2 separate regions of the Homo sapiens genome follow, and region 2 is linked to region 1. Evidence: fine-mapped expression QTL. A gene starts in region 1. The other region holds a variant in brackets. All regions are shown on one strand. Distances are between the middles of the regions. Region 1 holds the start of WDR97 (WD repeat domain 97). Region 2 has its middle 4.8 kb from the start of OPLAH.

Region 1 (2,898 bases):
CACAGCTGTGGAACGCGGTGGACGAGGAGATCTGCCTGGCTGAATGTGACATCTACAGGTGGGCCGGCATCCCTGCAGATGGCCTCCAGGCCTCCAGGTTTGTGGGGCACTTGGCGCCTCACACCACCTGTCACCCTATACTCCCCAGCTATAACCCAGACTTGGACTCAGATCCCTTCGGGGAGGATGGTAGCCTCTGGTCCTTCAACTACTTCTTCTACAACAAGCGGCTCAAGCGAATCGTCTTCTTTAGCTGCCGTTCCATCAGGTGGGCACCCCCCGCCTCCTCCCCCACCTCCCTGTTGGGCCGATACAACTTCCCCAGCTGTGCCATCTCCACCCAGCTTTGCCCTCCCTGAACATCCTCCCTGGGGCCAGCAGCAGGCCTGGGTAGGGGTCCTGAAACTGGTTTCCCTGCCTCCCCTCAGTGGCTCCACCTACACACCCTCAGAGGCAGGCAACGAGCTGGACATGGAGCTGGGGGAGGAGGAGGTGGAGGAAGAAAGCAGAAGCGGGGGCAGTGGGGCCGAGGAGACCAGCACCATGGAGGAGGACAGGTGTGTGATGGGGGCCATGACCCGGGTCCTTGAAGCCTGGAGTGGGTACAACAGGGTGGGGGCCTCCTCTACTTGGTCTAAGTGGTGGCTCCTGAAGGCCCACTGTGTGCCAACCTCCGCCCAGGGTCCCAGTGATCTGTATTTGATGAGGAGGAGCCGAGGCCCCAGCTTCATCCAGCTTCAACCAATGCCTGGACCTGTCCACCTGAGAGGCCCCTGGGGCCTCCCCAGCTGCTGGCCAGACCCTGGCGCTGCCACAGTCCTGGCACTGCCCAAGGCCATACCTGCCTAGCCCTTTGGCTCCATCCTGTGGATGCCCACTCACCCCTCAGACTCCTGCTGCCCATGCTGTGGCCGGACTTGTCAGCAGGGGGCCTGGTGGGAGGAGCGACTGCCCTGCCCAAATGAACTGCCACAGCAGGGACAGCTGGACCGCAGAGTTTATTTTTGTATTTCTACTGGGCCTGCACACTCCAGCCCAAAGGGTCTGTGGCCGGAGGCCCCACGAGCAGGCCCCAGCAGTCACCGGCTCTGGTCTTGGGCCGGCCCCGGTGCCCACCTGTACCCCCACCTCGCCCATTTGGCCGCGTGCACTGAGTGTCACTTTGCTGCAGCTCGTTTCTTTCCAATAAAAGTTTCTGTGACTTAGTGTGGACCTGATGCGGTGTGGGGGTGGGGCCTGCGGTGTGGGAGTGGCCGGCGGCATCTGGTATCCTAGCAACTGCCGCTGCGGGCCGTGACCGCTAAGTCCTGGGAGCTGTTGGGCTCTGGGACCGCAGTTGCTGAAATGGAGGCAGAGGTGTGGGAGGCAGAAGGCTACAACCTAGTTCTGGACTCGGACCTGTATGATGCGGATGGCTATGATGTCCCAGACCCTGGGCTGCTCACCGAAAAGAATGGTGAGGGGGCCTGGCCTCGCCCTCCGGGCATCCCGCTAGGAAGTGGGTCTCATTCGGGCTTGGGTTCCGTCCCCTGGAACAAAACTCCCCTGGGCAGTCCCTGGTAGGGCAGGGCCCCTGGAGGAGGGCTCCCCATAACCGTCAGGGTCGAGGACCTGAGGCTGTAGGTGGCAGAACTTCCAGTTCCTGCCCGCAGAGTTGACTTTCACGGAGCCGTCGCAGGTCCTGCCCTTTTTGACCAGCAGCCAACAGTGGCAAAGCCTGACCCCGCGCGCCCGCGCCCGCCGGCTGTGGCTGCTTCTGCGCACCAGCCTCCACGAAGTCGTGGAAAAGGTGCGGTGTGCCTGTCCTGCGCCTCCTGGCCTCTTTCCGGATCTGGGCCTTCCCTTAGGGGTCCCCTAGGCCGGAGTAGCCCCAACCTTTGATTGCGGGCCCGCCCACCCCGGCCCACAGGAGAAGAGAGCCGAGCTGCGCGCGGCGCGCCTGACGCATGGGCTGGAACCACTGCGCCGCCTGGAGGTGGCAGCCGGGCTGCGCTCGGTGGCGCAGGACCCGGTGGGTGGACGCTTCGTGGTGCTGGACGGCGCGGGCCGCCTGCACCTGCACAAGGAAGACGGCTGGGCACAGGAGACGCTGCTGGCGCCTGTCCGGCTTACGGGGCTGGTGACCGTGCTGGGCCCGCTGGGTGCCGTGGGCCGTTTTGTAGGCTGGGGCCCCGCGGGGCTGGCAATTCTGAGGCCCAACCTCAGCCTGCTGTGGCTGAGCGAGCAGGGGGTGGGCAGGGCCCCGGGTTGGGCGCCCACCTGCTGCCTGCCGGTTCCCGACCTCAGGCTGCTGCTCGTTGCGGAGATGAACAGCAGCCTGGCGCTCTGGCAGTTCCGTTCAGGTGGTCGCCGCCTGGTGCTGCGAGGGTCAGCACTGCACCCGCCCCCGAGCCCAACAGGCAGGCTCATGCGTCTGGCTGTGGCGCCGGTTCCTCCCCACCACGTCCTGCGCTGCTTCGCGGCCTATGGCTCGGCCGTGCTCACCTTCGATCTGCATGCCTGGACTCTCGTAGATGTGCGCCGGGATTTGCACAAAACGTGAGGGGGATCCCCCTAGGGAGGGCCAGGCATGTAGGGGCACACGGCCCTCACACACAAGGCGATGTTAAGTCCATTGGGATTCTCCCATTCCCCACCTGTAGCACCATCTCGGACCTGGCTTACTGCGAGGAAGTAGAGGCAATGGTGACAGCTTCCCGGGACAGCACCGTGAAGGTGTGGGAGGCTGACTGGCAGATCCGGATGGTGTTCGTGGGCCACACAGGTGCTCTGAGTTCTCTGCACCCCGAGCCTCGGCCCTTTGCCTCCAGCCGCTCTAGGCTGTCCAGCATCTCCGCAGCTCCGGCCAGGCCTTGCTGCGCTGACTGCAACACAGGCTGAAGGCTCCCCTGCCTTCAG
Region 2 (2,898 bases), 42 kb before region 1:
GCTATTGTGAGGTCAGCAGCTGCCCCTGCCCCCTCGCCTCAGCCGCATTCCGGGCCTTCAGGGTCAGGACCCAGCTGTTCCAACCACCCCGTGGCAGAGGTGGCCTGACCTCTGACCTCCAGCCCCCTGAGGGCCAAATGGCCAGTGGGTGCCCAGAACTGTCCCAGGTCTCTGGCTCACTCCAGGAATCCTCCTCCTAGAAGATGGAAGCTTCTTTGACCCGGCCAAGCCCAGGTGTGTCGTGGGGGAAGGGATATGGGATGCAGGCTTCCGCACCCACCCGTCTGACAGCCCACTGGCCACCAGCCACAGCCTCCAGGCCTGGCCATGCCAGGACATAGTTTTAGGCAACCAGGTGTGGTATGTCGGCAGTCACGGTTGGCACAGCTTCTGAAGGGATCAGGAAGGGTGGGTGCGTGGCTGCCCTGCAGGATGGGGCCCAGCAACAGCAGGAGCTGGACAGCAGCAACCAGGGCAGGCCAGGGCTACAGGGGCAGAGCCAGCCGAGAGCACGCTAGGACAGCATGGGAGGGGGCTGCAGGCCAAGGGATGCACCAGGCAGTGCTAGAGCCACCACAAGGGAGGCTGGGCCTGTTTCTGGGGGCACAGGGCCTTGGCATTGTCACATGGAGGTTGCAGCGAGCAGGCAGGTGCCCTGGAAGAGGCACCACATCTGGGCCATAACCTCAAGGAAGGGGATGGGCCAGGCGGCCCACCAGAGGCTGAGGACCAGGACCTAAAGACACACCTCCCCAGGGACAGGAGAGCCACCCTCACCCTCAGTGGTGACAGTGGTTTGCATTTTAGATCACATAAAGGACTTTCTTCTTCTATCCAATCTGTCTTTTTTTTTTTTTTTTTTTGAGATGGAGTCTTGCTCTGTCGCCCAGGCTGGAGTGCAGTGGCGCCATCTGGGCTCACTGCAAGCTCCGCCTCCCAGGTTCACGCCATTCTCCTGCGTCAGCCTGCCAAGTAGCTGGGACTACAAGTGCCCGCAACCACGCCTGGCTAATTTTTTTGTATTTTTTTTAGTAGAGTCGGGGTTTCACTGTGTTAGCCAGGATGGTCTCAATTTCCTGACCTCGTGATC[T/C]GCCCACCTCAGCCTCCCAAAGTGCTGGGATTACAGGCGTGAGCCACCGCGCCCAGCCTCCAATCTGTCTTTAAAGGGACACTTCTGCACAGTTACTTTGGTTTTCTGGCTTTTTCTTACATTATGATTATTATGTATTTTACATCATTTTTCTCTTTTGCTTGTTTGATGGTCTAGTTTCCACTTGCTGATTTGTAGACTGTCCTGGGATTCTCAAACTCCTTTCCCTGGCTACTCGAGTGGAGCCATCGCAGGGCCCCTCACCTGTGCGAGTGGGGGCAGTGCCCCTGAGACTAGTGCTCCAGGAGACTGGGGGCAACTGTACTGAATCCCAACAGAAATTGTGACAATTTAATTCTCGGCCGGGTGCAGGGGCTCACACCTGTAATCCCAGCACTTTGGGAGGTTGAGGCGGGCAGATCACCTGAGGTCAGGAGTTCGAGACCAACCTGGCCAACATGGTGAAACCCCATCTCTACTAAAAAAAAAAATACAAAAATTAGCTGGCCGCGATGGCAGGCACCTGTAATCTCAGCTACTCAGGAGGCTGAGGCTGGAGAATCACTTGAACCTGGGAGGCAGAGGTTGCAGTGAGCTGAGATCGTGCCACTGCACTCCAGCCTGGGCAACAGAATAAGACTCTGTCTCAACTACAATAAAATAATTCCTATAATTAGGAAGAAAATGGAGTAGAGTATTTTTATTTTTTTATTTTATTTTATTTACTTTTTTTTTTTTTTGAGATGGGGTCTCACTCTGTCACCCAGGCTGGAGTGCAGTGGTGCAATCATAGCTCATCGAAGCCTTGACCTCCCAGGCTCAAGGGATCCTCCTACCTCAGCCTCCCAAGTAGCTGGGACCACAGATGCATGCACCACCATGCCTGGCTAGTTTTTTTGTTTTTTTTTTTTGGTAGAAACAGGGTCTCGCTATGTTTTGTTTTGTTTTTTGAGATGGAATCTTGCTGTCACCCAGGCTGGAGTGCAGTGGCGTGATCTCAGCTCACTGCAAGCTCTGCCTCCCGGATTCAGGCCATTCTCCTGCCTCAGCCTCCCGAGTAGCTGGGACTACAGGTGCCCGCCACCACACCTGGCTGATTTTTTTTTGTATTTTTAGTAGAGACAGGGTTTCACCGTGTTAGCCAGGATGGTCTCTATCTCCTGACCTCGTGATCCCTCCGCCTTGGCCTCCCAAAATGCTGGGATTACAGGCGTGAGCCACTGCACCTGGCCCGGGGTCTCACTATGTTGCCCAGGCTGGCCTTAAACTCCTGGCCTCCTGCCTTGTTCTCCCAAAGTGCTGGGATTACAGGTGTGAGCCACCACACCTGGCCAAAGTAGAGTTTTTCTCTTTTTTTTTTTTTTTTTTTTTTTGAGACAGAGTCTCACTCTGTCACCCAGGCTGGAGTGCAATGGCACCATCTCGGCTCACTGCAACCTCCGACTCCTGGGTTCAAGCAATTCTCCTGCCTCAGCCTCCCAAGTAGCTGGGACTACAGGTGTGTGCCACCATGCCTGGCTAATTTTTTTGTATTTTTAGTAGAGACAGGGTTTCACCCTGTTGGCCAGGCTGTTTTCAAACTCCTGACCTCAGGTGATCCACCCACCTTGGCCTCCCAAAGTGCTGGGATTAGGGATTACAAGTATGAGCCACCAAGCCTGGCCTGGAGTAGAGTATTTCTGATAGTTGGAGAGATTTTACCCCAAAAGAATGAGGCTCGGCCAGGCGAGGTGGCTCATGCCTGTAATCCCAGCACTTTGGGAAGCCGAGGCGGGCGGATCACCTGAGGTCGGGAGTTTGAGGCCAGC

Evidence for each region. PIP is the estimated chance that this variant, and not a neighbour inherited with it, causes the effect.
Region 2: its variant is the best candidate, but not a certain one, in a credible set for the expression of WDR97 in blood mononuclear cells (TOPMed, PIP 0.66).

The regions. Positions count from the first base shown.
Region 1 is chr8:144,106,407-144,109,304 of GRCh38, forward strand. WDR97 (WD repeat domain 97) reads left to right here and starts at 1,333. Exons shown (of 24, transcript NM_001316309.2): 1 at 1,333-1,456; 2 at 1,653-1,789; 3 at 1,910-2,538; 4 at 2,643-2,764. The coding sequence starts at 1,345. It overlaps MAF1 (MAF1 negative regulator of RNA polymerase III), which reads left to right. Exons shown (of 8, transcript NM_032272.5): 5 at 1-58; 6 at 149-268; 7 at 429-557; 8 at 682-1,205. The coding sequence ends at 703. RefSeq lists an enhancer at 2,276-2,806.
Region 2 is chr8:144,063,997-144,066,894 of GRCh38, forward strand. It overlaps a transcript of EXOSC4 not described here. Among named protein-coding and RNA genes, the nearest start is that of OPLAH, 4.8 kb to the left of the region's middle. The variant T/C (reference allele first, on the strand shown) is at 1,091.